Linked DNA regions of Homo sapiens. The protein of the gene in region 2 purifies or fractionates together with the protein of the main gene of each other region. This does not show direct contact. Each region holds a gene or a part of one and is shown on either strand. Other genes may lie near its edges.

Region 1 (4,991 bases), on a different chromosome or scaffold from region 2:
AAGGGAGTGAGGGCTCTCTTGACACTGGCAGGTAGGCATGTGTTGGGGTGAAATGTCAGGAAGCGGCATGGGTACATTAGGGACATTTTGGGGCAGCACACAGGGGTAGGACCCAGGCAGCCCCTGCTCTCCTACCCTCCAGCCCAGGCATGCTGCACCCCTGCCTCCTTGGGAACTTTGGAACAAAGTCTCAGCAAACAAAGGACGCGTTCGTAAACTTCAGGCGGGTCCCCCGGCTGCTGCTAAGAGGCTATTGAAGCCGGCTCCCATGAGAACAGTATGTTATGAGCACATGGTTTTGCACTAGCGGGCAGGGCCAAAATAATGACAACACCTTCCCTGCTGCTTTGATACAGGAGGAGGGGGCGAGAGTTGGGGGGACTCCTGCATCAGCTTCAGGGAAATGACCTAGAAGGGAGAGAAAGCAGTAGCAGCCCAGGGTTGCTTCCAAGCTGAGCCCCTCTTCCCAGGCAGTGAGTGTCCCACTGTGTTATGCACCTGGAAGTGAGTCATTTGATAATTGCGGGGCTTTGTATTTTTCCTAGGGACTTCCAGCAGAGGACTGCAAAGTGCTCTGAATATTATCAGGAACTGGTTGTTACTGTGCCTATTAAACAGAAAAGCAAACAGTGCTGGAAGGGAAAGCCTTTCCTTCCTTTCACCCTCAGATAGCTCAGGCCACACTCACAGAATCTCTTGGCAGAAGGAGTCTCCAAAGCTCACTAGGTCTGCTAATATCAGAGTGAGACAGCAGGAAGGGACCAGAAGTCTCAGGCCTGGAGTTGGTGGTCTGCTTGCTGTTTTCTCAGTATTGACACTTAAAACTTTGTGGGATTCTTTATGCCATCTGTATGTGTTCTGGGCTACAGTGTCCAGACAGACGCCTGAGGTGGCAGAAAGAGTCCAAGGCCCTGGGAGAGAGCAAATCTAAATTCGAATCTCTTCTCTGTTGTTGTCCGTTTGGGGCAAGTCCCTCTGAGTCTGTTCTTTCACCTGTAAAACTAGGATAACACCCACCTTGAAGGGCCATTGTGAGGAGGAGAAATAAATATGTGTAAACCCCTAGAATGGGGCTTTGCTCAGTAAATGAAGCCACTATTTTTTTTTAATAAGGCCATTCTACTTATATGAACAATGTCATATCCATAACGGTGGATTCTGCAGATTAATGATACTCTAATTTTTATTTATAAACCTGAAAAAGCTAGGTGCATACAAGAATTAGGGCAATGACTTTAGCCACCGAAATGCTGGACATCAGAAAAGCACCTGAAGTTATGCCTAGTTGCACAAAACAAAAACTTTAATCAGGTGCCTTCAAGTGGAAGGACAAGGCGATTCCTGAAACCTCTACAGAGACACCTACTATATCATCTAGTTTTTCATCTTTCTTCAGGGCAGGGAGTCCTCCCTTTCCTGCCTCTTTCGTCTCCTGTGCTGACATTTGGCAGCCCTTGCTTAGGAGAAGCAGCAGGCATCACCTGATAAGATGTGGCGGAAACACAGGTCACCAAGTTAAGAGCATCAGAACTGCTGAGTGACCTCAGCCTTGTAAACAGTGCCATCCCAGGGACAAGATGGACATCCATGGCTGCCCCCTCTGACTCCACTCCCAAATTAGCAAGTGTATCTCAAGCACACCCAACTGAAAGCATTCCATGAATTTAGTTTAACCCATCTAGAATTCCACAGGGAATGCTAAGTTGAGTGAGGTGAACTGTGAGACGGGATTCCTATCTCCAGTTGGTCCTGCCTCTTGGGGCAGTGGATTCCATACACTCTTCCTCTCCATGTGCATTTCATCATAACGCTCCACGAGGCCGCTGAATCCCTGGCACAGGCCATGCATAACAGATACACAATGGCTGCTCGATCAATGAAGCCCCCGTAATAAGGATGTGAGCATCCTATTTCTCACTCTCTTTTGTGGGGAGGCTGAAGAATGGAAAGTCACTTTTCTGATGGCCCCATCACTGCTCCAGCCTGCCCTTCCCCTAACCCTCCTTACAGATCCAGGCTGCAGGAGGACCCCTAAGGAGTCCCGTTCAGAGAACTGAAGGAGACTGCAGCTGTCAGCACTGCGCTCTCTGACCCAAGGCCTAAAGACCCACCACCAACTGACACAGCCCAGATCTGAGACTGCAGCACCTCCCTCTTCTATTCACCCTGCCGCTAACTGGGCCCATCCTCTCCCCAGCCTCTGAGAAACACACCTGTGAACGTTACACCTTCTATGTCCCTTCCCTTCAACATGCGTCTCACACTTGAGGCCGATTTTTCACCTCCCCGTCCGCCTTAGGGTGGAGGCGTTGCCCTGAGCAACAGTGATGTCACCTGCAGGGTGCTTCCGTTTCACTGATGTCACGGGGTGGGCCTAACAGATAGAGGGGGGATGTGCTCTCTGTGGGGAAACGTCACAGGTCCTAAACTGTTGAGGAGGGGTCTACAGGCCTCTGGGGCACTCCCAAATGACCCCTTTCCTCGCCCAGAAGAGCTCCTTACCCTTCCTTCCTCTCTGGATGCCTGTTAGAGCTCAGGCCTCAAATCTGACTTTCCCTCTGCCAGAGTCAGCCAAAAGATCAGGATGAGCAGCTCCAAACAAACTGCTGGAAAGACCACTGAGGATAGATGTCCTCCCCGTCTAGGACAGTCTAGGTCCCTACAGCCTTGTCCTTTGTCCAGACCTCAGAGGAGGGAGCAGTGACCTGATGGGGAAGTTGGGGCCCAAGTCGGCAGAGAATGCAGACCTCCAACCGACCTCTGCTGTCCTGAAGAGCGCACACTGGCCAGGTTTCCAGTCTGCGCCAGGCACGGTGCTCAGAGCCTTCTGTGCATCGTCTGGGTCAACCCTCCCCACAGCCCTGAGGGTCATCCCCATTTTACTGATGATGTTACCGAGACTTGAAGAATCAAGGCACCTGCCCAACTACTGAGAACGCCCAACCACCGAGTGGTGGAGCCAGGACTCAACTCAAGTCTGCCCCACTTCAAAGCCCGTGCAGTCACACCGCCTTGGCTCTGGGCACCTGGAGATGTGGCTCATTAAAGATGAGCCATGAAGGGCCTGGACAGAGACCAGAAAGAGCCCTTTAAATCTAAAGAGGCCAGCTGAGCAGGGCAGGCTGCCTGAGGCAGCCGAAGCAGGCACTGCTTTAGGAATGCTTCACCCCCTGGCCTACGCAGGGGATGCAACAACTGGCCAGCCTTGGCCCAGCCTCCATGCTGATTGGGGACCACGTGTCTTTGCTCTATGCTTGGCTTTCTATTGATCCATCCAGGTTACCGGATCATCCTCTTGATTTGCATATAGCACTTACTCTCATGGCCTGGCCCTACAACTCTGAGATTGTACAGTAGTTATCGAATTTACGCAAATGCAAATCTATGTCTCTGGGAGCTAATGCTTGCAAAGCACTAAACAAATAGGTAAATAAAATAAAAAATTACTACATTATGAGAGAGGAAAGGGAGAAATGCTACCAGGATTTCTCAGGGAAATACTGCCCTTGAGGCACTGGCCAAGGAGATGCCCATAGCCAGGCTGACCTGAGTATCCAGTCTACCTGGCAGCTATCTTTCTGCTGGTGAGAGGGCCGCAGAGGTAGACAAAGCCCTGCACTATTGGACATCACTGTCCCCCACCCTCACCCCATGCTGCTCCTGCCTGGTTCTGACTCCAGCTTTGATAAGCGCAGTCCACCTTCTGGTCTTTGGTTTCCCATATGGCTTGTCTAGGACGCAGGGAAGAGACGACATTCAGTCTGTGTGATGTTTGCGAAGTCTCCTTGCAAATTAATAAACCAGCATTCTGATTCGTACACCCTCTTCTGGGAGCTTTCTCAGGGTGAATCAGTAGCTTGAGTCCAAACCACTCTGAAAATTATGGAAATTGGGTTTCTGAGCGGGCACAGCTAAGAGCCATGCCCTGGGACAGGTGACGTGATCCAGGTAAACACCACCCTCTGAGCAATCTGCTGGGCACCAGCTGGCCCCTCCCAGGAGGCATCTTGACTTCCTCACTGATGAGAAGCCTATTTTGTTTAAAGTGCCTATCGACAGTACATAGTGAAATGCTCGGTTCCAGCTAATTAAGCGCTCAGCTGTACGGTGTGGAAACTAAGAGATCATGTATATGGAACTGTGAAATGGAGTTTCAGGAAGGGTTCTTGGACGAACTTGAGAAGGGCATTTGTGGGTGAATGGGACTTCAACAAGGAAGCAAGAGACCACAGATGGGGATTAGGGGTTTGGAAGGTCAGGACAGTTGTCTCACCTCCTTCCACTCGCTCTCTGCCTAGGTCAGGACCCTGCGTGCAGCCACCGCCGTTTCCCTCTGAGCCACACCTGGGGGCACTTACTCATCACCCTCATGCCAGGCCCCAAACTGGATCTGCCACCTCACACCGCCCAGAGATTAAGGAAAGTCACTTGATTCTTGGGCCAGGCTCCCCATCAGCCATCAAGGCCCGGCTTGCCTCTTTTCTTTCCTCCTCTGCCTCCTGCCAGATGAATTTCCCCTCCTTCCTCCACCTGGACTGAGAATGGGTATTTCCTCCTTTGACAGAGAAAGAAAAAGGCAACTGTTCTTCCCCCTTTCCCACGAGGGTTCCCAATTAAACTAGCTTTTTAAGCTTAAGTTGCTTCTTGGTCTATGAATGCCCAGTGATTAAGACTCACCTTCCAGGCTCTGGAACACTTAACATCCCTGTGCCTCAGTTTCCTCATCTGTAAAATGGAGTTAACAATACCTAACTCATACGGCTACTGTGAGGATTAAATGAGTTAATACAGGCTAAGTACTTTTGGGGAAAAAAAAAAAAAGCCTGGCGAATGTTAAGCCCTCAATAGTGGTTGTTTATCAGGGCTGCTGTGTGAATGGTGGACCAGGCAGTGTACTGCTTAAGGCACCTGGCTGAGGGGTGAGGATAAATCCAGCTCACATGCCACTTATCCAGCTATATGGCTTGGCTATGTCCACTCAAGTAAGGCCA
Region 2 (4,991 bases):
CCAGCACTCAGTCAACTCACTGGTGTTTGGAACTCACAAGTAATAATTAATAATTGTGTTACTTGCTACCTTTACAGCCATGAAGCCCTTTCACATTCATGAGACTGGTTATTCTCATGCAACTCTGGAATAGTTATTATTACTCCCATTTTGTAGACGGATTCTCTGAGTCTTGGAGACTTTGTCTGAATTCCTAAAGGACAAATAACAAATAACAGAGGCAGAATTCAAACTCTGGTCTGCTTGGTTCCAAATTCCATGATCTTCCCATGATATCCTGCTGCTTCCTGCCAGGGCCACAACAAGAGTTTTTTTCTGGGCTGGTTGGCTGAGTTTAGGAGGAAGGAGAGGATATGTTTTAAACTTGCAAAATTCTTGATGACCCATAAATTAAAATGCCCCTCCTGAGTGTGACACAAGGCCTGGCTTGCCTTCCAGTCTGAAGGTTGCCTTTTCGCTGAGGGACCTGCACTCTTGCCCCTTACACGTCTAGATTCAGTTCTTCGATACGCAGGGCTGGCTCTTCCAGAGAGACTGGAGTCACAGCAGCAGGTACCACCCCACACCTGACAAGAGGTGGCCAGGGAGGAAGGGAGGGTTCTTACCTCCCCATCTCCCCTCAGTAAAATTCAGGATGCCCAGTGAAGTTTGAATGTCAGATAAACAATTTGTTAGTATAAGGATGTATCTAGCATTGAAATGATGCCTTGTAATTTACTAAATCTGCAACTATGCAGCCTTATTTCATGGCGGGCAGTGGTGGTGATCCCAGGTTTCAGGGGCGGGGAAGGGTGCTGGGGGGATCCTGAGGTCAGGAACCCGTACACCTCTGCTTCTGCCCTCTCTTCCCTGTGCCGGCCACAAGGCAATGACTCCTGTGTGGGTGCAGAGGCAGAAATGGGTCTGGAAGGGGATTCCCAGTGTCTGGCAAGTTCTGGTAAATTCTGCATTGGAGGTTCTCTCTGTAGTAAGGGGAGTTGGCCTGGCCTGAAGTGAAAGCTGGCTTACCCGGTTTCATTGAGCTCTTCAATTAGTCTGTTTGCACTGGTGAGCATTCAAATCTGATCAAGAAGGTAAAATGAGCTTTCAAGATCCCTAAATGCATTTGAAGAAAGGAAAGAGGAGGCCCCTGAGTGGCTGGAGCGAGCAGGTGGGGTGAGCTGGTGCCGCTGGCCCAGGAGAAGATGGGAGGGCAGACACTGGGCCTCCGGTAGGTGTCAAGGAATGGGCAGATGGAATGCTGGGGCCAGCTCTTGCCTCTGGGTCTGCAGAATGCAGAGCTGGGGGCATGCACTGGGCGTCAGGTCCCCAGCAGGGCAGCAGTGAGTGCAGCCTCGCTGCTGGGAGAAACTGCCCTGCTCACTCATCGGAGCTCGGGGAGCGAGGCGGGGCTGCTCTTAGCCCTGCCACTAAGTTCATCCACAACCTCGAGTAGTATCTCTGGGCCTTTGTTCACCTGGCAAATGTGATGAGTATATTGCATTTCCCTTATGGCTCCCCTTAGTTCTGAATCTCTGCTGGTGCGTGTATACCTTCAAGCCTTCTCATTATTGCTGTTCTCTGTGCACTGGCCAGGCAAGCGGGCTGGCAACCACGTTTCGTTAACCACCTTTATTCTACCCAAAGATTGCTTCTTCATTTTCCCTCCGTGTTTCCCCCGTCCAAGCAAAATATCAAACCTCTTTTTTCAAAGGGTCATAGTCAAATGAGTGAACCAAAGAGATCAACGCTTTTGTAACAGCCCCACATCAGCAGCTGAGGAGTAACTCTGGGACAGAGGCCCCCATCCGTGTTTCCGTCTCCGTCCACTCTCCAGTTGTTCATTCATTCACTCAGCAAGTACTTACTGAGCTCAGGGGATGCATCAGACCGATTGGAGCTGGAGGCAGGAAAACTTCAGCAGAATTACAAAATATGGGAAACTCCAGGTGACTGGAGGCCTGGTTACTCAAGCTTTTTGCTTCTCCCTTCTGTGCTGGACTCGCTGAAGTTTAGTGTTCAGCCACCCGTCCATCAAGTGGTAGAGGCAAAATGAAATTGAGTTCTTGTCAACAGTTTCAGTGAAAGGCCGGAAGTCTTGGCTAAATGGAGGTATCTGAGTATCCTGTGGGCTGCACCTCTATGGAGCTCCACAGAGCTCCAAGACCACATAGAATTGGAACTGGCTCCTTCTGCCGATAATACAAACAGCCCTCTGGGATGTCCTTCTCTGACTTACCTCTTCCCTGCTCTCTGTCCACAGGGCTGCCCTTGAGATGGAGTTGCTGCCTCTTTGGCTCTGCCTGGGTTTTCACTTCCTGACCGTGGGCTGGAGGAACAGAAGCGGAACAGCCACAGCAGCCTCCCAAGGAGTCTGCAAGTTGGTGAGTTTCCCTTGAACCCTGATCTGTCGGCTGCTCCTGTCCTGACAAGGCTTGGTCCATTTGGAAAGCTGACAGATTGTCCATCAGGAAGGGCAGAGAATGAAGGAGCCTGCATCACTCTGTGCCTGCCTAGCACAGGGGCATGTGCAGCTGCCCTTTAACCACAGGATTTTAAGATGCTTCCTGGGAAGAGCCAGGCAGTCCCTGCCCCGCCGTTCTCACGCCTGCTGAGGATAGGAGGCATCCGAGACCAGCCTAGGGCATCCTCCCGGAACAAGAACAACTTGTTAAAAATCTGGATGATTCAGGCCGGGTGCAGTGGCTCAGGCCTGTAATCCCAGCACTTTAGGAGGCCGAGGCAGGCAGATCACTTGAGCCCAGGAGTTGGAGACTAGCCTGGGCAACATGATGAAACCACATCTCTACAAAATACAAGAATCAGTCAGGTGCGGTGGCACACACCTATAGTCCCAGCTACTTGGGAGGCTGAGATGTGAGGGTGGCTTGAGCCCAGGAAGTGGAGGTTGCAGTGAGCTGAGATCATGCCCCTGCACTCCAACCTAGGTGATGGGGCCAGACCTTGTCTTTAAAAAAAAAAAAAAAAAAGCCAGGCGCGGTGGCTCACGCCTGTCATCCCAGTACTTAGGGAGGCCAAGTCCGGCGGATCACCTGAGGTCAGGAGTTCGAGACTAGCCTGGCCAACATGGTGAAACCCCGTCTCTACTAAAAATACAAAAATTAGCTGGGCGTGGTGGTGCATGCCTGTAATTCCAGCTACTTGGGAAGCTGAAGGAGGAGAATCGCTTGAACCCGGGAGACGGAGGTTGCAGTGAGCCGAGATCACACCCCTGCACTCCATCCTGGGCGACAGAGTGAGACTCTCTCAAAAAAAGAAAAAAACAAAACAAAACAAAAAACTGGATGACTGAGCTGCACCGATGGTATGAGAATCTCCGGGTGAGGTGCTTGAGAGCTGGAGAAGCCTGCCTCGGAGTTTGTGGACGAGTTGACCGCTAAGGCTTACACAGCTGCGGGGAGGACTTGCTGCCATGCCACTCTGCAGAGCGGCAGCCCGGACCACGCTCAGGCTAAGAAGACCCGGAGCGTGGATACCCAAGCCTCCTCTAGGGCTTTCAGCCTAGATGTGAAAATAGACTTGGGTCCAAACTGAGAAATTTCCAGTAATTTTCCCCTTCATCTATATAACAATGATATCAAAAGTCTGCTCAAGAAACACATATTTAGGCCAGGTGCATGGCTCACGCCTGTCATCCCAGCACTTTGGGAGGCCGAGGCGGGCAGATCACAAGGTCAAGAGGTCGAGACCAGCCTGGCCAACATAGTAAAAACCCGTCTCTACTAAAAATACAAAAATTACCCAGGCATGGTGGCACATGCTTGTAGTCCCAGCTACTCGGGAGGCTGAGGAAGATTGCTTGAACCTGGGAGGCAGAGGTTGCAGTGAGCTGACATCGTGCCACTGCACTCCAGCCTGGGTGACAGAGTGATACTCCATCTCAAAAAAGAAAAAAAAAATGAAACACATATTTAATAAACATTTCTTGAGCCATATTATATACTAGGCGTTGGGAAGACAAATTGGATGTCAGGGCTAACACTTACATTCAAGTATGTATTCTTAAAGCATAGCTGTCATGGTTTTTAACCTCTTTTAGTAGGAACCTATAACCACTGTGCTAGAGTCTATTCCAATATGACATAGAGGTTACAAGCTAGACTGGCCTGGTTTAAACCCAGCCCCACCCTTAGCTGGTGACATTGGGGTCACTCTAGGTCATAGTTTCTCCATCTGTAGAATATATACGTAATAATAATATCTACCAATAACATCATGCTGTGTTGACTGATGATTAAATGGGTTAATACATGTAAAGCACTCAGGACAGTGCCTGGTAGGTAGTCAGTGCTACGCGTTTTATCCGTTATCACTCATATTATTATTAATCTCTGCTATGTTTGACCTCCAGCATTCTCTTACAGAGGCAATAAAGGATTAACTACACAGTAGTTATTCAGGGGTTACCAGGCACAGGAAGAGGAGAGATAAATGAACAGCCTTTCAGAGTTCAGGCAAGGCCCTCTGCTTGACACTTTCTGGCCCAGTGGGCAGGAGTAGAGAATTGGCTGCCAGGAAGCCCAAAGAGTGGGTTTCCTGTGGCTCTTCCGAGTTGAGGACTGAGAATTGGAGAGTCTGGGTGCCCTCCACTGGCCCTCATCACATTATCCATTTGACCTTATTAGAAAGTGGACGTTGGCCAGGTGCGGTGGCTCCCGCCTGTAATCTCAGCACTTTGGGAGGCCGAAGCAGGCAGATCACCTGAGGTCAGGAGTTTGAGACCAGCCTGACCAACATGGTGAAAGCCCGTCTCTACTAAAAATACAAAAATTAGCCAGGCATGGTGACGGGCACCTGTGATCTCAGCTACTCAGGAGGCTGAGGCAGGCGAATCGCTTGAACCAGGGAGGCCGAGGTTGCAGTGAGCTGAGATCGCGCCACTGCACTCCAGCCTGGGCGACAGAGCAAGACTCCGTATCAAAAAAAAAAAAAAGAAAAAGAAAGTGGACATGGTAAGCTTTTCTGGGATGGCCATATGGTCCTTCTACATC
Region 3 (4,991 bases), on a different chromosome or scaffold from region 2:
CTGTTTTTTCTTTTCCTTTTTTGCTAAATGAGATGCCTACTCCAGGATCTTCCTAAAATAAGATTCACAGAAGGTAAATTTCCTAAGTCTTTGTATGTCTGAACACATCTCTACTGTCCATACTTGATTGATAGTTTGGCTGGGTATGAGATTGGTCATTTTCCTTCTGCCTTTTGAAGACCGTGCTCCAATGGTTTCTAACATACGGCGTTGCAATGGAGAAGCATGCCATTTATGTATTGTTTTTTTTGTCCAGATGCTTCAAGGGTCAACTTTTTAGTCCTCTGTTCATTCCCCACATTCATTTGCTCGGCACTTGGTCAGCCATTTCAGTCTCCGTGAATGATGTACTCCAATTCTGGTTATTTCTGTCATCATCTCCTCTATTTTCTCTCTCCCCTCTTTCTGGAAGCCTTGCTGGCAGGCACTTGGAGCACCTGAATGGATAGACCCTGCTGGATAGTGATAGGCACAAAGCCCCTGCTTTGTGGGGTCCCAGGTGTCAGTGCAGGGAAGACTGCTCTGGGGCACAGACCCTTCAGCAGGGGGTGCGAGGCAGGGATTAGATGAGCCTGGGCTCCTGAGGGCAGGGGCTGGGGACCACCGTGAGTGTGCAGACCATTCCTCAAACCTCTGAGCCATGAGCCGCCCCCTTGGCACCTCCAGAGAGCACATGTCAGAGAGCTGCCTAGATCTGGGGTGGGCCATTTGGGGAGTCCTCTGCACCTCGCCACACCCCGCCCTCTTCCTGCTTCTGTTTGACACCTCCACCCCGCCTTTTGGCAGATGACAGACTGGAGAGTAAACAGCAGATGCGTCTGGCAACGCATGCAATGGAGGAAAGAGGACGGAGCACAGGAGGTGGGACAGGGCAAGGCGCAGCTGGGGCACCAGACCAGAGGATGGCCAGGACGTGCCTGTGGCCAGCAGTGCCTGCAGTGTTTGGCAGAGGGAAGGGGACAAGGCAGAGGGGAGGGGAGGGCTCTGCGTGTTGGGCATGGGACTGGACGCCTCTGGCTCCTAAAGAGTCCCACCGGCTATGGAGGGGCGTGCCAGGTAGTGGCTTCCATACCGTTCAGGCAGGTGTAGGTAGGAACTGGACGGTGGCCAAGGGCAGGTCACCCTGCCTGGATCAGCTGTCACATCTGCAGAAAGGGGCAGGAACACCCACATTTGGCTGCTGGCCTCACAGGCAGCTTCTAGAGTCTGGCTGGCCCTTTGTCTATACCACAGGCCGTGTCTAGGGGACAGAACAAGGGGACCCAGGGCATGGCAATGTTCTGAGCAGAGAAGGTGCACAGGGAGCCGTGGGGACAGCGTAAGCCATTGGGCCTTAGGGCAGGGGCCTCGGTCAGCTCCTAAGGCTCCCCCAGGTGCAGTGTCCGTTGCGCCATTTTATTACAAGACGCAGAGCCGCTGGGCCAGCACTGCTAATATCTTTGAACACACCCGCCTCCCTGGTGTGGTTCCCCAGCAGCTGTCCCTGCAGCGGGAGGCCTTGGTCCAGAAGGGTTATGTGGGACATGGGCGCAGGAAGGACAGGTGAGGCTGACAGGCTTGGTCATTCCAGGGACCATGAGGGCTTTCGCTGGCTCAGGTGCCCCTTTCCCCTGCCGTTGCCCCTGTTGGTGCCTGCTAGACCTCCTGTGCACAGAAGGCCTTGGCAGAGGAGAGAGCCAGGCCTGGGGCAGTAAAGGAGAAAGCTTCCCCTCCAGTCCTCTGAGGGCCCCGGACTTAGATGGCTTTCAAATGAGTGTCTGTCTTCAGCAGCTCACCCTCCCAGCTTTTTCAGAAACCAAAGAGTAAATTGCTCACGGCTTCTCTAAGTGGCTCACACACAAAAAACCCGAGTCATTTCAATGGCTGGACCCAGAAAATCGAGCCCTCTTCTCTCCTCCCTGTCTCTGGCCCCCAACTCTGCCTCAGTTGCCCTGGGGTCTCACTGTCCCCTCAAGACACTGCCCCTGCAGGCGCAGGCAGAGAGGCCTTTGTTCCCCTCAGCTGTGTCCCCTCAGCTGTGTAGAGAGGATGCTGCCGTCGGACACGTGGTAACTGAGCCTGCTGCCACCCCCACCCGTGATGGTCAGTAGGTCGCGTGCCATCTGGGGCTACTAGAGCCGGCCCACTGTGCATACTACATGTGCCTGCTGGGTGCTCTGGGCTCTTCTCGCACTCCTGCACTGGCAACCGCTTATCTTTTTGAGCTGGGTCTTAAAGGTGGAGAGGTCTGACCAAGGGGCGGTCACTCACACTGGCATTCCAGTGAAGGGCATGGCCCATGCAGAGACCAGGGGTGATATACCCGTGTCCTCCTACCTGCAGACCGTGACGGTGCTGGGGAGGGGAGGGGGCACCAGGCCACATCGGGAGGGCAGCAGGTAGACGCTCCAGCCCCTCCACGGCAGAGGCCCTGAGCTTTGCAGGGGTGAGGAGGCTGTCATTCAGAAACGTCGCTGCCAGGGAGAAGGGACTTAGAGAAGGGAGCCTTGTGGCTGTGGCCCATGGCTGCCCTCACCACCAGGCTCCTGCCTTCAGGTGGCCAGGGGCCATCTGAACGCCCAGGGGACCTGGGTATGGGGTTGGTGTAGACCATGTCTTGGCCCTTCCCAAGGTGCCGGCTTCACCTCCATCCCTCTGTGCTCTGGTGCTGACCTGGCATTTGCAGTTATGTGCCCTAGTGGCAGCCGCTCGAGCTTGGCTGCCAAGACCCACGGTGTGGTCAGACCACTGTGTGCGGCTGAGGAATGAGTTCCTCCCAGGAGGGGAAAGCCCTCGGGTCAATCGGGGCCCTCGTGCCCACCCGTCACTGCAGGCCAGGATCGTGGCAGGTGGCAACCCCAGCTTTGAGTGCTGCGTCTTCTGGGGCTGCAGCCGCCCACTGTGAGCAGGAGGGTGAGGGCAGGTAGAGTCTGTCCTGCCATGAAGCTGGAGGCTTTGACAGCAGGGGCGGACAGAACTGAGCAGAAACACTTCACAGCCTGGCCACGAGCTCCCCGCTTTGTGCTCCCTCCCTCGCATTTCCCCGTGTTCTGCACCCCCAGAGCTGAGGAGCCAGGGCCCTTGTCCAGGAACAGGCTGGATCGAGGCCTGGTGCCTGCATGCATTCCCAGGTGGGAGCCAGGCAGGTGACCCGGACCCTCCACCAGCCCAGAAGCAGCCCTTCCACCGAGGGGCCTCACACCACTTCTGCCTGCTCCCTCAGTCATTAGGCCCAGCGCTGGCTAGGTGGCTCCAGACATGACCAGCAGGCTCTAAGGCTCATCAGCGTCTTCTGGAGCCTGCACGATACACACACAGGCACAGGCTACACCATGGGAGACCCCATCTGCAGGGTGCCAAGCCCTTGCATGCTTGGGCCTCTGACGGGATCTGTCCCCGCTGCTAACCAGGCACAGGGCAGCTTGCTCTGCAGGTCTTCCAGTCAGCTAGCACAGACCCTGGCCAGTGTCATGACTCTGTGGCCCTGGGCAAGTCACACACCCTCTCTGGGCCATGGGCAGAGGAGCTCATGATGGAGGCATGCCTTGGGCTTCAGGGGATGGTCCCTGAATGGGTGTGGGGCTGGGGCTGAAGGACCCGCCTGTGGGCTGGGGCGCTGAAAATGGGAGAGGAACTGAGCCATTTGTGTTTCCCAGATGGGGCCTGCTGCACTGTGCACAGCGTGTCCTTGCCCTCAGAGTCACCCTTGGGGCCAGAGTCCTTGTGGCTGTAACTCACAGGGTCATTGGCTGGGGCTAGGAGGGCAAGCTTCTCTGTTGGTGGACACATCACACTGTGGTTTTTTGTGTTCAGAAGAAACCTGCCACACTGGCCTGTCTCCATCCATTTGGTCACGGCCCCACAGGAGTGGGGAGCGGAGGTCCATGCGGCCCTATGCCTCCCCTGGACACAGGGTCAGCTAGGAAGGATATGGATAGCCTCTTCTGAGCAGTCAGGGCCTCGTGAGCCTGAGGCAGGAGACAGAAGCCTGCCCCGGCCGCCTCGGGCCCTTACTCCCTGGCCCTTGGTCATTATTGTTTCTAAAACGTTTGTCTCACCTGCTACCTGAAGAAGGTCCCGCCCTCTGGCCCTTGAGGCCCCGAGTGCCCAGGAGCTGCTGCCATCAGCATGGATGGGTGGTACCAGGCAGGCTGTGGGTGCAGGGTGCTTGGGGAGGGCCAGGTGTGCCTTGGGACGTGTGAAGTGGGAGCCTGGAGCAGGGAAACTGAGGCCTGCTCTCGCCCCTGCTGCCCACAGCTTATCTGCCCCCTGGAGACCAGCCGTGCCTGACCCTGGGGTCGTCAGCTCAGTCCTGCTGGGTCCTTCCTCCACCCCATCTGCTGAGAGCTCCTCCAGGGCAGGGTCTGAGCCTGCCAGGCCACAGAAAACACTGGGCGGATGACAGCTGCCTGTCCCTTCCTCGGCAGTCTGCATGCAGTAGTGCTGGCCTTGCTGCCTGCCCCTGGAGCCATCACTGGCTACCCCGCCTGCTTCAGAGCTGCCACCCCTGGGGCTTTCTGACATGTCCTCATAGGCGGGGGTGGCCTGCAGTGGCACCGCACCACTTGCCAGGCACTGTGCCTCCCTCCCTGCAGGGAGGTGTGCGGTCAGATCAGGCAGTTGCCAGCGGACACCAAGAAGCGCTTTGTGCTCCCCGGGGTCCCTCCATGCCCCCCACCCCCACCCCTGCCCAGGGCAGTGTGAGGGGAGGAGGGGAGCAGTGTGGGTACACTTCCATGTTGCCATCTGGGGAATCCTGGCGGGGGGTCAGGGCCCTTCTGGAGCTGCTCCCCCGGGCAGTGAGGGGCCCTGTGGGCTCCTAGGCTGCCTGCCTGGCCCTGGTTCTACTTGGCCTGAAGCCCACCCACCCCAGCGTGGACAGGAGCCAGGAGGAGGAGCCCTCTAAGAATGACTGCAGCCTCTCCCGGGGCTGAGCCCACACACACACACCGGGCATATCCACAGCCGCCACCACGTTTTACCCACCTGTCCAGTGTCCTGACGCCTCCAGC
Region 4 (5,292 bases), on a different chromosome or scaffold from region 2:
CTCTGCCTGGGGATTCTGTTATAAACCTTCTGCCTACATTGGCTTTCACTGTGGAAGTTGATTTCTAAAACTCTGATGAGCTCACAACGTTGACATGTATATGCGTTTTTTGTGAGTGCTTCCTGCTCAAAGTGGGAGAGATTTTACTGGAAATGCAATAAAGTTTGCATTTTATTGCTACCGATGCCCACCACAAAAGCGTTAACCTCAGAAAGCTATAAGAAGCATCAAAAGATTGCCATAGCCCCCTGTAAGAGCTTCTGAACATTGTCCAAATGAAAGGAGGCTCAGCTGAATTCTAATTTTCCTAAAGACCCATGTTTTTAGCATCTATGAGCTTTCTACAAATCTCCCCATTGGCTGCATCTCTGACCTTGCACCAGTATCTGGTTGGGATTCCCTTTTTTTTTTTTTTTTTTTTTTTTTGAGACAGAGCCTTGGTCTGTCGCCCAGGCTGGAGTACAGTGGCGAGATCTCAGCCCACTGCAACCTCTGCCTCCCAGGTTTGAGCGATTCTCCCGCCTCAGCCTCCCAAGTAGCTGTGATTACAGGCGCCTACCAGCACACCCAGCTAATTTTCATATTTTTAGTAGAAACAGTGTTTCGCCATGTTGGCCAGGCTGGTCTTGAACTCCTGACCTCAGGTGATCTGCCTGCCTTGACCTCCCAAAGTGCTGGGATTACAGGCATGAGCCACCAAGCCTGGCCGGGATTCCTTTTCAAAGTCTGGCTGCACCTAGAGCCAGTTTGCTTCTGCTTGGCCTCATGGGGCCTCAGAGAAAGCCACAAAGGAGGATGGGTCTTTCCTGGGTTCATTTAACTGCCATTTATAACACTTTTTCCTCTAAACAGCTTAATGGACTTCCTACTACTTGTATAGTTTGATTTTCAGGACTCTGTTCAGCAAGAATACCTACTTTACAAAACTCAGCATAAAAATGAGGTGAAACAGTTTAACTAAAACTGGAGTTTGGCTGGGTAGTGTGGCTCACAACTGATCCCAGCACTTTGGGAGGCCGAGGCAGGAGGATTGCCTGAGACCAGGAATTTGAGGCCAGCCTGGGCAACATAGTAAGACCCCCGTCTCTATCTTAAAAAAAAAATAAAAGAATAAAACAAGTTCCTTCACCTCTTGACAAGACAAAGCTGACACTTTTTTTTTTTGAGACAGAGAAAAAAAGAAAACTCTACAGCCAGAATCATACTTTTGAGTCTCGCTCTGTCGCCCAGGCTGGATGGAGTGCAGTGGCGTGATCTCAGCTCACTGTAACCTCCGCCTCCTGGGTTCAAGTAATTCTCTGCCTTGGCTTCACGAGTAGCTGGGATTACAGGTGCTCGCCACCACGCCCGGCTAATTTTTGTATCTTTAGTAGAGACAGGGTTTCACCATCTTGGCCAGGCTGGTCTTGAGCTCCTGACCTCGTGATCCACCCGCCCCGCCCTCCCAAAGTGCTGGGATTACAGGCGTGAACCACTGCACCTGGCCACTTTCTTAAACCTACACATTGGTTGCTGTGATATTAATTCTATTTTTACAAAATAAGTGTATAACCAGGAAGTACTAATCCTGCTTTCTATGCCCAATTGTTAACAGGAAAGGGCTCAGTGCACTTCTCAATTGTCACCCCTGCCCCCAGCCCTGATCCACGGCCTCTACCCCAAGAATGAGCCAAGAACCAGCTGCTCTAGGGATCTCAGCAGCAAAATCCTGCCCAAGGCTGTTAAAATGTGTGGGCACTCATTTACACTCGTGCTGTCATGAAACACATCCTTGAACAGGGACTATTCTCTTTCATTTCCATAAGCAAACTGGCGTCTAAGGCCACAAGCCCTCCGTAAAAATAAGAACTCGGCACAAATGGCCAGTCACATGCTTACCTGCATTTTTAAAGACAGCTTTCAGGTATTTGGGGACTACATTATTACCAAACCTTGGCTTTGGGAGATTATACAGGTCCGAGGAACTCGTGTCTACTGCAGACGAATGCAATTACCCCACCTTCCTCCATACAGAATTGTTAGGAAATGTCCACTCCTTTGGGGGTGATTTTTCTCCTCAAGTTGTAGCCAACATTTTGTCCGTAACTGATTTCAGGGCAAACATTTCTGACATCTTCCTCCAGCTCAGTCTGCCATGCCTTGGCAATCCAGTTTCCTGTCATATGCGAGCCATCCAAGTTGATGCCAAGTAAGATTTGCCCAGCTCAAAGTGAAAGTGTTTGCGTCTTGGTATCCGGAATCCTCAGCCCCAGTAGCAAAGCTTTAGTCATTCACCTTCATCCAATAGACGTTTGTGAACGTCCTGCTGTCCATTTTGTCAATAAACAGGCAGCCCTGCAGGTGGTCCATCTCGTGCTGGATGATGCGGGCTGCCCACCCGCTCGCCTGCCACACCACCTGTTCTCCATTGGGGTCCAGCCCTGCAAAGGAAGTTACAGCCCTGGTGAGTGGGAACAGCTGAACTGCATCATCCTCAACCTCCCTACCCCTGCCCCCGGTCCTGGCTGTTCCCATTGACAAGAGGCAACAGCAGATGGCAAATGTAGACAGCAGCTCCTCTTCTAACTGGAAAACGTCCCTCATCTCGGTCCATTACCAAGCGTTCAACCTGGTTCCCAACTCTGGTAATTAGGTTATCGAGCTCACTGTAGAGCTGAGATGAGAAATCATCTTTCTACGGTGCGACCCTTCCGAACACTCCTCCCACTTCTGAGGTACCTGTGGGCTCCCAACTCCTAACAGAGGTTCTGCAGCTTGAGACCCCACTTGTTTTTCTGACCATCTTGAACCGACGGGCTTGCTGTGCAGGAACAATCACCCCGACCCCAGCAGAGCCCGCATTCCGCGAGGCATCCTGTGGTACCACGGGGGAATGGCCTAGCCCCCTGGGCTGGGTCAGGCTGGCGGGGGCTAACCCCCACTTCTCCAACTCCACCGTGGCGGATCTAACTGGGGCCGAAGAGCGTGTTTGCCTCAGAGAGCAAGGGAGCAGAAAGCAGACGCCAGGCTGTCAGGTAACAGCGGAACTAGGGGACCTCTCCTCGCCCCTGCGTCCTATCTGAGCGGGCTCTACCCCACAGGAGCTTCTATCCGTCCTGAGGCCTCTCCGCTCCCGCATCCCACTTCGCTCCTGCGGGAGGTCCGGCGTATGAACCGCGACCACTTCTGCGCTCTCGCGGAGTCGGGCAGAAGAGACGCGCGCGCTGCTCCAGCAGCCCCGGTCCCCGCCGCCCGCACCTGAGATCTGCACCGCCTGGAAGCGGGGCACGCAGGCCAGGAAGCCGGCGACGCTCTCGCAGCCCTCGGGAAAGGTGACCAGGCGGCTGTCAAGCACTCGCAGGCTGGGGTTCACGAACACGCGCAGGGGGAAGGGCTCCATTTGGCGGAGCGCGCGCTGGCGGGGCGGGCACTCCCGACACAGCGCCTCGGGGAGCTCCAGCGCCAGCACCTGCCGCGGCACCCCCAGCTGCGGCGCGCTTAGGCCCACGCAGCGCCGCCGCCGCATCACCTGGACCAGCCGTTGCGTCAGCCGCTGCAGCTCGGGCCCGCCTAGCTGCGCCCGCTCCACCGGGGCCGCCACGCCGCGCAGCACCGGGTCCCCGACTTGGCACACGTGCGAGAACGGCGGTTCGGGAGGACCCAGCACCAGACGCCTCAGGTGGCGCCAATAGGAGCGCCGCAGCGCCGGGCCCTCGACGCCGTCCGGGGCGGCCGTGGAGCTGCAAGCCCGGACACCGACGGCTGCCGCCCCGCCCCACGGCACGGCCGCCCACAGTGGCCAAAGACTCAGCGCGCCCCACAGCCGGGCCATGGCGGCCCCCTTAACAGTGACCCGGCCCGCCCCTTCCGGCCGCAGCGCGGGGCACGCCGGGAAGCGCCGTCGGCCAGCACACAGCGAAGCCGCGACTGGATCCCCGCCTTCCTGCTTAGACTGGCAGTGAGCACCGCCCCCTTCCGCTCTCCTCCCGGGAGCGCCTTCCCGCCTCCCGAACCCGCCCCGGACCTTCCAGGGCGAGGCAGTCCTGGCCACCCCGCGCCGGGAACCTCACGCACCGCGTTCTGGAGGCAGGGGACGCCGGCTAGGGCCCCACGCTGGGCGGTTCGGCCTGCGTCTCCGCTCGCCCTCCCTCCGGGCAGGCTGGGCCCGCGGGCTCCAGGCGTGGCTCCTCGGCGGGAGGCTCTGGTGCTGGAGCTGTGAGCTCGGGCCCCAGCGCCTGGTCATCCAGGGTGAAAAGCGTCTCTCTCTTTGGCAGGATAAAGGCGAGGGGCTCCTGAATGGCGCCGATGTTCACATGCCCTAGGTTACCGTACTTGGAGAGCTGAGTGGGAGGAATGCCTAACCCAGACGTGGGGAAAGCAAAATGGAAAACAGTTACTAATAAAACTCAATATAGAAATTTAAGGGAGGCCGGGCGCGGTGGCTCACGCCTGTAATCCCAGCACTTTGGGAGGCCGGGGAGGGGGGGGCGGATCACCTGAGGTCAGGAATTCGAGACCAGCCTGACCCACACGGAGAAATCCCATCTCTCTTAAAAATACAACATTAGCCGGGCTTGGTGGCGCAGGCCTGTAATCCCAGCTACTTGGGAAGGCTAAGGCAGGAGAATCGCTTGAACCTAGGAGGTGGAGATTGCAGTTAGCCGAGATCGCGCCATTGCACTCCAGCCTGGGCCACAAGAGCAAAACTCCGTCTCAAAAAAAAAAAAAAAAAAAAAAAAGGAAATTTAAGGGAAAAAAAACGAGCCATTACTATTTTTTTTTTTGAGACAGTCTCGCTCTGTCGCCCAGGCTGGAGTGCAGTGGCGTGATTGCTGCTCACTGCAACCTCTGCCTCCCAGGTTCAAACAGTTCTCATGCCTCAGCCTCCGTGGTAGCTGGGATTACAGGCGCCCGCCACCATGCCAGGCTAATTTTTGTATTTTTAGTAGAGACGGAGTTACTATGTTGGCCAGGCTGGTCTCAAACTCCCAACCTCAGGTGATCCATCCGCCTCGGCCTCCCAAAGTGCTGGGATTACAGGCATGAGCCACTGCGCCCAGCCATCAATTACTATGTTTTAATACAGCAAAAACCACCTTTGTTACAGGGAATGGGAAGCTATACTGTGAAGCAGAACGTAACGGAACAGCAGTGTAGGGTGCCTGCAGCAGGAACCCAGACCTCAGGCAGCACCAGGGAAAAAGCAGAGGGCAGCCAGGCTTTGCACGTGTGATGCACTGACCCATTGCCCTTTGGGAAGCTGTGCCTCAACCAAGCCCCTCTCCTACCACAAAGGGACAAGGACGTGAAAGT
Region 5 (3,682 bases), on a different chromosome or scaffold from region 2:
CTCCCGTTCTTCCTGATGGAGAAGACACTCTTCCTCTACCACTACCTGCCCGCACTCACCTTCCAAATCCTTCTGCTCCCTGTGGTCCTGCAGCACATCAGCGACCACCTGTGCAGGTACGGGGGCTGCGGAGACAGTGGCTGGACCGGGCAGCAGCCCTCTGCTGGGAAGCCCATGCGCAGCAAACACATGGGGTGCAGCGAACCTCACCCATTTCACGTTACACTGACATCCTCCGGGTCCCTCCGGGGAATGGGTGAGGTTCAGAAGAGATGCCCAGATGAGGCACTGCAGGAACCCAGAGGGAGAAGTCGCGGCTGACAGAGATGAAAGCGGAGTGGGTGGGGAGACGGGGAGGGGATGAAGAGATGTGGGTGGCCTGGAGGATTCGGGAGCAGGGAGCAAGGCCCAGGAGCCTGGGGTGTCAGAAACGGCAGCTGGTTATGGTCGGGTTGTGTGGTGTGGTGGAGAGAACCCAAGAAAGCTTCTAAACCAGAGTGTGTTTGGAGGTTGGAGCAGAGGGCGAGGGCCTCCCGGTTTCAGGAAGCCACACAAGGGAGGACCGTGGGTTTGGGACCAGTCCTCTGGCATCTGTGTGGAGGTGGCCCAGCCACTGTGGAGGCCTGAGGAGTCATCAGGGGGCCCCTCTCAGTGCATCCAGGTGGGAGATGGTCATGGGTGGCAGGAGACAAGACACAGAAACCTGAAGGCAGAACCCCAGGCCTCGGGGGGTGACCGTGTGGACAGCAGATGCCAAGAGGGTGCCGGGCAGGGAAGCCGCAGTGGTCAGCCACCCTCCCCCACGCTGCTCTGACCTCTGCAGGTCCCAGCTCCAGAGGAGCATCTTCAGCGCCCTGGTGGTGGCCTGGTACTCCTCCGCGTGCCACGTGTCCAACACGCTGCGCCCACTCACCTACGGGGACAAGTCACTCTCGCCACATGAACTCAAGGCCCTTCGCTGGAAAGACAGCTGGGACATCTTGATCCGAAAACACTAGAACAAGAGTGTGGCAAAGAACACCCGTGCTGGGGTCGGGATGAGGTTGAAGGGTCTTGGTCAATGTACGTAATGAGCAGGGTGGGCCCCACGCTGGGAGGACACGGGCTGGGCTGAGCAGGGCCTCTAGTGGAACACATGGGGGTCTCATTGAAAAGCTCTCTGATGAGCACCTCCTTTTGTGCAAAGTTAATTTTTTCTCGACAATAAAGATATTCCGTGTCTTTACCCCTGAACTAAGACACAGGGAGTATTTCAGAGGCCAGCGTAGGAGTCATTGACAACAAAAAGCCGAGAACCCAGGGCCAGCAGTGGAGCCTCAGCAGACCAGGGCCTGGTCCTTGCTAACTGCTGCAGGGTGGAGTTTGATCTGGCAGACCCGATCCTCCTTCATGAACACCCAGCAACCTGAGCAAGTCCCGGCCCTGCCCTCAGCGAGCCCGGCAGGCGTCCTGGGACAGCTCAGTGTTGGAGGGCCACCTGAACCACGAGCCAGGGCTGGGGCTTGCATGTCATTGTCTATGACAGCGTCAAGACTGGCCCTTGGCACCGTGCTGTGTGGAAACCCTCCCCTCTGAGACTCCACTGAGACGTGGCTGAGTGAAATCTTCCTCGTCAGTGGTCAAGGTGTGTCATCCATACAGCTCCATGCCTTTGTCTTTTTTAAATGTAATTAAAAAAGGAACCAACTGGCGTTTGTAGTTGGTGTTTGTTATTTATTGATTCTCCCTCCAAAGGGGCCTAAGCTCGACAAAACCGTTACAGTTGTCAGAACCCAGCCACAGGGCTCAGCCCCCTTCCCCCACGTCACGTCTGCATCACTACTGTGGGTGAGCCTGGACGGACGGGGGCTGGGGCTGCCCATGGCAGCGGCAAGGGATGCTTTCCAGAGACAGCCACCACGCAGGAGGGAGGATCACCCCAGGCAACCCAGACACGGGTGTTCACATGTGAGGCTGTGAGCTCCACATAGCACAAAGGAGGCTTGCTGACTTTGGGCGGCCATGTCTGCTGGGACCTGGGTGATCCAGTGCGTGCCACAGCCAGAAGCACCATTCCCTGCATATGGCCACTAGCCACCCTGGGGTGGGACAGCCTGTCTAGACAGACAGCACCTTGGGGGCTCCCCTGAGGGTCAGTGAGGGCCTGACCCCAGGCAGGACTGCGTGGACGCTGTTCTCCAGCCGGGACAGACCTGGCCTCCGCTGCCTTCTGCCCTACTGCATGGGCTCCCAGCCTGGCCCCGCACAAGCCTGGGTGTGATGCTGGGTGCTTCCAGGGCATCCGCCTCGCTTCTCTGCCTTTAAGGCACAAGCAAGGGGGGAAAACATCCCTCAGTGGCTCCCCATATCCGTGTAGGCCACGCTGGACTGCAAACCACTGGGTCATGAAATTAGGTTTGTAGGCCACAACCAGCCTTGTGTTATGAAACAGAAAACAGAAAACATGAGGACATGTAACATGTAAAAAAGGAAAGTACTTGTTCACAAAACTTTTGAGTTATGTGTGTGAGTGTGTAAGAACCAGATCAGACTGGAAAAAACTCTCTCCCACTGTGGGTTCACTGTCAACAAAACATCAGGCCAGCCAGTGTCTAGGCTGTCTCCTCAATTTCCCCAATAATGTGCCTCACATTCCTCACAGAAGCCTCCCAGGCTTCCTGCACATTCTGTGGCATTTCTCAGTGACCTAGAGGGATCTTTAAACCGCAACGAGCCTAAGTGGCTGAAAACCTCAGGAACGCCTGTCAGTGTCCCAGCAAGTTGAGTCTGAGTGACACATCTGAGTTTCCACTCCTGAGTGAGGAAGGCCTCGCTGCTAACACTCCCCTGGGGTGCGCCGAGAGGAAGCAGTGGGTGTGGGTGGGCGTCCCCAGGCTCAGTCCCTGAACACACATGCCGGGCGGGAGACCTGCCCTGAGGCTCGGCAGCCCCTCAGTGGGGTCTGCTGCTGGACTCCAAATGTGACCGTTTGCCAGAGGTCAGCATCCCAGGGTGGTCCCCTGGCTCAGAAAAGGTCCGCTTGTAGCTCCGCCCATTGGACCCTCCTCGGTGCCATTTGCAGATGTCACCATTCAGAATGTCCTGGATGTGCTGCACGATCAGGTTGATGGCAACTGCGCCAAGAGACAGACAAGCAGCGGGTTAGCCGCATCCATCCTCCGTGGAGACCGCCCCTCCCCGCAGCACTCGGCCAGGAGTGAGCGCCCAACCTCTGCCCTGAGGCACAGCCTGCGGCGAGGGGCATCGAGTCAAATCTCAGCAGACAGAAACATGCATCAGGACACAGCAAAATAAGACTTCTTAGCTTGGTCTTCCAGGAATTTATGTTAGAGTCTGCTTAAAGTACTTTCTGCTAACAGATTTGAATATACATATATATATGTTTTAAGAAACAGGTTCTTACTTTACTGCCTAGGCTGGAGTGCAGTGGCCCAATCACAGCTCACTGCAGCCTCAACCTCCCAGGCTCAAGCAATCCTCCCACCTCAGCCTCCTGAGTAGCTGGGACCAGAGGCACATGCCACCATGCCCAAATAATTTTATTTTTTGTAGAGATGGGGTTTTGCTATGTTCCCCAGGCTGTTGAACTCCTGGGCTCCAGTGATCCCCCTGCCTCAGCCTCCCAAAGTGCTGGGATTACCAGTGTGAGGCACCGCGCCCAGCTACATACATTTTTAAGCAT
Region 6 (5,674 bases), on a different chromosome or scaffold from region 2:
CAGGTTAGATAAAGTCCCATTTTAGTTTTCTCTTCTCCCCCCCTTTTCAAAACCAATCCATAAATATACATAAAATGGCTGTCAGTTCAGTTTCATGGTTCTAATTTAAGAAAAAAGAAGCACCATTTTACAAGGTTCCCCACCTCACCTATACCCAGCCCCCACCCCCCCTTCTTTCTTTCAGAGCCTCTTCAGTTAACAGTTCACCGTGAAGGTCTCTCATGTTCACAGAGAGGCAAGGAGCCAAAATACTTGGGGTATTTTAAACCATCGCTAGAAATGCCACGGTGGGAACCTAAAGGATACTTTTCAGAGGCAAAAAGGCTGTAATATAATGCATCAAAGGAGCCCCAAGAAGCTCTTAAATCACCAATTGTCTCCCGGAGCTTTGAGTAAGGAGAAAAAAGGAGAGCGCATTTGCTTTGATGGTGGACTTCACTACCACGCTATTAAAGCACATCAGCGTCCTAATTGCATGCACGGTACCACTTAGCAGCGCTTCCCGGAGAGCGCCCTGCGACCACTTCTCATTGATCATGTCAGCGACGCTACCAAACCGCATCTTTAAGCCACTGAAATAGTTCTGCACGATGGATTACAAAGAACTCAGCGAAGGTATCCGCAATCTCCGAATACCTCCCGATGCCTAGAGTTTAAAAAGGACGTTCCTACCGCTTACCGGGAATCAGTACACCAAGGATCAGCACGAAAGCCTCCCTTACCTTGGGCTCCGCGTCTATTTGCAACGGTAATAGCAAGGTTTGCACGGAACTACCACCTCGACAGCATCCCCATCTTTGGAGTTGCTTATTACATTTAATTGTTAACGCTCCCCTCTCTCTTTTTTTTAATCTCAGGGAAAGGACGCCTGGGCTGATTAAGAGGCAAAATAGAAAGGTGGGAGGAAGAACTGTAAGCGACTTAGGTCAGTTGTTTAATATCCGAATTTCATCTCCCACAGGAATCAATATGACCCCCTCCCCCTTTTTTTTCTTGCTCTCTTTTTGTCCCCTTGAAGGCTTCCTTCCACTTCCTACTTCTGATCAACAGCAGCACTCTTAAAGGAAGGACATAAATGGAATGAGCGTGTGTGTGTGTGTGTGTGTGTGTGTGTGTGTGTTTGTGTGTGCGCGCGCGCGCATGCTGCGTTGGTTAATGGGGTGGAGGACATTTGATAGAAATGCTGGACTCTAGGAACCTATGCCTTTTCTCTGGTCAACCTTGCCTTTGCCTCACTACCGAAGTCTAATATCGAATTGCAACTCCAAACTAAAGCCAAGATGTTTCCGAGACAGCGGGTTCAAGCCTGGAGACCTTGCTCCTGATCCCCAAGTCGACTCCAGCCCGCGTTATTAAACGCCCCTGCATTCAAACGCACATGTATCAGTGTGCCTGCGAATCATTCACGTGTGGCCACCCAGACGTGTCGAGATGAATTGGAACCACAGTGCATAAACCTCGCAAGTATCCCCGACCTCCCAACGCAACGGTAAACGTCTCCCGGCTTAAAAGCGGCAAAAACATCCCCACCCCAGTGAAAGCAAAACGTTTACCTTGAAATTTCAGTTCTCCGCTGGATCAAATCCGCACATCCATTCAGCGAGGTTGGGTCCCCTCCCCCTCCCTCCCTGTGCTTCCCCGCCCCCATTCACCTCCCACCCCATCTGAAAGCCCATTGCAAATTCAGTCCAGCCAGTATTAAACTCCAGCGTTTACAACTTTAATTCAGTTCTAGTTAGCAAGGGTCGAAGAGCTTCCTCTCAACCCACTCCCTTCCCCCTCCTCCTTGCTAGCAAAGGAGACCAAAAATTTGAGAAAATAAAGTTGAATGAGCCTGGGGAGGCTGACATTCTGACGGGGAAACGCACCTCCGATGCAAATTCGCGGGTGCGCTGAACATTCTCAGATTCTCAGATTTTTTTTTTTCCTGGAGGGCGGGGGCGGGGGAACTATTCATTTTCTCCCAAAGAATTTAGATACTGGATCACCGCCCTGTACGTCCCTGCAGTAAGCAGCATGGAGCCTCTCGGACTGGAGCCCAGCACCCAGGCCGCACCGGAGGCTCCGGGCACAGCTGCTCAAGCAGCAGCCCAGGCAGAAGCACCCGGAGTTCCAGGACGCGAGGCTCCCCCTCCCCCACCCCGCCCCAAAGAGAAGGAAGGGAAAACGGAGGAAGAAGGGGAGGGAGGAGAGGGAAGGAAAACCACCCCGCCACATAGACACACACACACACACACACACACACACACACACACACACACACACACACACACCTCTTTTGCAAAGTAAACGATAGACTTACCCAGTCTCACATCTCCAAGGCCCAGTCATCATAGCCACCCTTTAAAAACACACACATACACAAAAACCCTCTTTGGGGTATGCACTAGGTTTCTCAAGCCCAGGCAGGGCGAGGAGACTGCGAGCAGCGCAGTCCCAGAGGCTGGAGGAAAGAGGCGCCCGGACGCCTCCAGCCTGGGGCCGCCGCCGCGGTGGCGACCGCGGGTTCCGGGGCTCCCCAAAAGGCTCTCCCCGGTGCTCTCCGCGGTAGTCGGAGCGGGCAGCAGGGTTGGGGGGTGGAGAGCGGGGGGCGTTCTGCAGCGGCGGGATAGGGAGGCGGCGGGAGGGGGCGGCGGAGGTCCGGCTGGAGAGGCGCCTCGCGGTAGGGGCCGGGAGCCGGAGCCGGGCGGGGCGGGGAGGGGGAGCTGCTGGGAGGGGAGGCACGGAGCGGGAGGAGGGGGACGCGGAGAAGACTGCCTGGCCCCGCCGGCCCCGCCAACGTGACGGTCAGCCCCGCCGAGCGCTCGCACCCGCTCACACTCATGATCACTCGCACACTCGCTCCAATACGTGTTAAGGCGCGATCGCGGGGTCCCTGGCAGCCTTCGCTGCACCCTCCCCCCCACAGGGGTACTCACAGTTGCCATCTGCATAGGGGGCAACTTTCTCCGACCCAGCTGTGGCCGCCGCCCCCTCCAGCCTCCTCTGGCTCCTCGCACCCTCCGGCCTGGGTTCGCGCCGGCCGGCCCTCCCCTCCCCCCTCGGCTCTCCTCCTCGCCGTCTTCACCACATTCCCCCCTGGTCAGTGGCGCACGCCGGGGGACGAGCCAGAGGGAGCGGGTCGCGGGGGTGTGCATGCATCTCCCGCCTTCTTCTTGCAGCGCACACTGTACATGGTAGTGAGGGGGCGAGCAAAGGTGGCACCGGCCCCTCGGCTGCTCCAGCGAAGGCGGCGGCTGCAGCTCCTGCGCTGTCCTCCGCCCCCCAGCGCAGCGGCGACCACCGCGCTGGGATCCCGCCGACGCTGTCTCCGCGCCGAGCCCGCCGCCGCCGCGGCCCCTAATTAGTATTTGAGAGGCTCTTGCATCCCTTTGGCAGTTTCATCCTCACGGTGTTTGCAGGGTTTTTTTCTGTATCCCTTCCCCAGATGCGGCGCACAATCGTCATTAGTTGGAACTCTCTATCACCGACATCCTTTGGGGTTTCTGGGGGAAGGGGGGGGCGGGCAGCAACCGCGTCGTTCTATGCCTGTGGCTTGTCCTGGCAGCCCGGTGGCTCTAAAAAAAACTCCGAGAAAGTTGCGTCTTCCTCCCGGGCGCCGAGGAGGTGGCAACGCGGTAAGCAACACCGGGTCTCTGAGACAGCTGCTCCGGAGCGGGTGCAGGGCCCAGTCCAGTGCACTTGTTTATTGTCGCGCCTCTGGTGCGAGCCAAGCTGCAGCAGACATGATGGGCCCGGGGCGAAGCGGGCGCTCGGTGGCCGATAGATGGCAGCCGAGGGCGAAGGCGTCCCTGGGCTAGGGCGGCGCAACCGGGGCCCCCTTGGATGTCACATTCGTAGGAAGAGAGAGAAGTCTTGGACCATGTGTGTAATTCGAGCGTGGGACTGTGCAATTCTCGGATTGGGAAAGGGAGGAGTGGAAATAACCCCGGCAGTGCCAGGCTTGCTGGTGGTCAGGAACAGATGATTCCAGCCCTGTGCTGATCGCCTGCCTTCCTCCTGCCATTCAGAATGCTGCTGTCTCGTGTACTTACTGTTAAGGATCCTGGAAAAGGGAGTGGTTCCTCCTAGCTGCAAACAAGGGCGCTACTTTTCTTTTCTCTTTAATAGAATTACGTTTTATAGGTGTGTCTAGGCAACACAAGGGAATGTGAAAGACTTTCAGAGGGAATGTTTGTGAATACATCTGGTGTGTACTAAAAAGCTGGAAAACCCCTAAGTAAATGCAATATCGATAGAAAGCGAGTTTCTTGAAGAGTCATCTGCTAAACTCCACTAGAGTCATCTCTACAGTAAGTATTCTTGGGTCTTTCCATGAAACCAGACACTTCCATCCCCAAAAAGGGGTCTTTACTTTCATAAGACATGTTTTCAATATTTGTAATATTAGACCTGCCGTTCATCCCGGGTATAAGAGAAAAGTTGATAATAGTAAGTGACCCAGTGCAGGCTGAGTGCACATGTGCCTGTTCCTTTGATAACTATGTAGTTAGTTTCTCCATGTAAATATATTTTACCCACTTTATTTTGCAATTAATTACGTCTTAATTATTATTGATATTGTTTTATTCTTAGTAATATTTGGGATAATACTGTGTTATAATCTGGTTAATCATATGTTTAATATTGATATAGAGTCTGATAATATGTCTATGTTCTGAGATGTATATATATCTCAGGTGATGAACATTGCAGTCTCCTGAGGTACTGCAATCTTTTTTGAACTTTCCCCTGCGTATGTTGTGTGAATATATATATTTTTACTTTATACCATAAAAACTTTATTTGGAAGCAATTTTGTTTAAGTATGGGTTATATTCAAGGGAGAGGAAGGAAAGAAGTAATATGTAATTTCAGACAATAAAAACAAAATCTTGTAATGAACGTTTCATTAAATTTAGAAGCATTTGACCTAGGAATGATAGCCACTAGCTGTAGATACATTGCATCAACAAATATAACTTACACGTCATCCACAAAAGGCTTATTTCTGTATTTTTTATTCAGTCATTAACTTTTAACATTATATAAACATTTCAGAAAATTTATTTTAAGTTTAAAATTACTTTTATATTTTCAAAATGAAATGAAATATTTAAATTTAAAATTATATAGGAATTACAGCCAGAAGCCTTTGGAATATAAATATTGAGTCCTATCAGAAACATAATTTTCAATATCGATTAACTTTGTAGAAGTTCTTAAAGGTCCTAAATTGTCTTAATCGATTATTGATTTTTTCAAAATAGCTGAAATAAAGCTGTTATATTTTATCACTGTTCTAAATCTTTATAATTTCATTCAATAGCAAAGTTTAATTCATGGTTTTGTATTATTTTTATTTTAAATATTTATTGTTCTAATTAAAGGAAATATTATTCAACTAAGAAGTATTAAATATGTTTGGAATTAGTTTAGGTTACAGTTTTGTTAGAAACACTTATGCTAATAATCTAGTTTACCTCTTGTGGTTCAAATAAGTAAATGATGAAAACTTTCTGCCATTAACTCAACATTAAGGATGGTCCCGGAAGCCACCATTACCTTTTGCCACTAGGTGTCTCTATAAGATGCTCTGCAAGAGAATGAAATTTTAGAAAATACTGTGACTTGAACAGTTCAGAACAGAAAAACACAAGAGGGAAAACATCATAGATATAAGGAAAAGCCTCAG

What was found.
Region 1: the proteins of NRROS (region 2) and ITPRIP purify together in Homo sapiens (affinity purification with mass spectrometry; 2 studies listed by BioGRID and IntAct, with this or other methods). This does not show direct contact.
Region 3: the proteins of NRROS (region 2) and HS6ST1 purify together in Homo sapiens (affinity purification with mass spectrometry; one large-scale study listed by BioGRID and IntAct). This does not show direct contact.
Region 4: the proteins of NRROS (region 2) and PDF purify together in Homo sapiens (affinity purification with mass spectrometry; one large-scale study listed by BioGRID and IntAct). This does not show direct contact.
Region 5: the proteins of NRROS (region 2) and POMT1 purify together in Homo sapiens (affinity purification with mass spectrometry; 2 studies listed by BioGRID and IntAct, with this or other methods). This does not show direct contact.
Region 6: the proteins of NRROS (region 2) and SLITRK5 purify together in Homo sapiens (affinity purification with mass spectrometry; one large-scale study listed by BioGRID and IntAct). This does not show direct contact.

Annotation. Positions count from the first base shown.
Region 1 is NC_000010.11:104,331,125-104,336,115, forward strand, and holds part of ITPRIP (inositol 1,4,5-trisphosphate receptor-interacting protein precursor), read right to left. Parts: intron 2,782-4,991; exon of another isoform or gene 2,503-2,781; intron 2,375-2,502; exon of another isoform or gene 2,214-2,374; intron 1-2,213. UniProt on the Homo sapiens protein: Enhances Ca(2+)-mediated inhibition of inositol 1,4,5-triphosphate receptor (ITPR) Ca(2+) release.
Region 2 is NC_000003.12:196,652,285-196,657,275, forward strand, and holds part of NRROS (transforming growth factor beta activator LRRC33 precursor), read left to right. Parts: intron 1-2,242; 5' UTR 2,243-2,255; coding exon 2,256-2,363; intron 2,364-4,991. UniProt on the Homo sapiens protein: Key regulator of transforming growth factor beta-1 (TGFB1) specifically required for microglia function in the nervous system.
Region 3 is NC_000002.12:128,269,572-128,274,562, reverse strand, and holds part of HS6ST1 (heparan-sulfate 6-O-sulfotransferase 1), read left to right. Parts: intron 1-4,991. UniProt on the Homo sapiens protein: 6-O-sulfation enzyme which catalyzes the transfer of sulfate from 3'-phosphoadenosine 5'-phosphosulfate (PAPS) to position 6 of the N-sulfoglucosamine residue (GlcNS) of heparan sulfate.
Region 4 is NC_000016.10:69,326,760-69,332,051, forward strand, and holds PDF (peptide deformylase, mitochondrial precursor), read right to left. Parts: upstream 3,830-5,292; 5' UTR 3,812-3,829; coding exon 3,238-3,811; intron 2,421-3,237; coding exon 2,263-2,420; 3' UTR 154-2,262; downstream 1-153. Other genes in the region: COG8 (conserved oligomeric Golgi complex subunit 8), read right to left, coding at 4,080-4,336, 4,476-4,616. UniProt on the Homo sapiens protein: Removes the formyl group from the N-terminal Met of newly synthesized proteins.
Region 5 is NC_000009.12:131,522,109-131,525,790, forward strand, and holds the end of POMT1 (protein O-mannosyl-transferase 1), read left to right. Parts: coding exon 1-116; intron 117-823; coding exon 824-998; 3' UTR 999-1,691; downstream 1,692-3,682. Other genes in the region: UCK1 (uridine-cytidine kinase 1), read right to left, coding at 2,932-3,113. UniProt on the Homo sapiens protein: Transfers mannosyl residues to the hydroxyl group of serine or threonine residues. Coexpression of both POMT1 and POMT2 is necessary for enzyme activity, expression of either POMT1 or POMT2 alone is insufficient.
Region 6 is NC_000013.11:87,669,454-87,675,127, reverse strand, and holds the start of SLITRK5 (SLIT and NTRK-like protein 5 precursor), read right to left. Parts: upstream 3,758-5,674; 5' UTR 3,348-3,757; coding exon of another isoform or gene 2,823-3,347; exon of another isoform or gene 2,761-2,822; intron 2,540-2,760; exon of another isoform or gene 2,303-2,539; intron 1,905-2,302; exon of another isoform or gene 1,554-1,904; intron 1-1,553. Other genes in the region: formin-like protein 5, read left to right, coding at 2,823-3,347. UniProt on the Homo sapiens protein: Suppresses neurite outgrowth.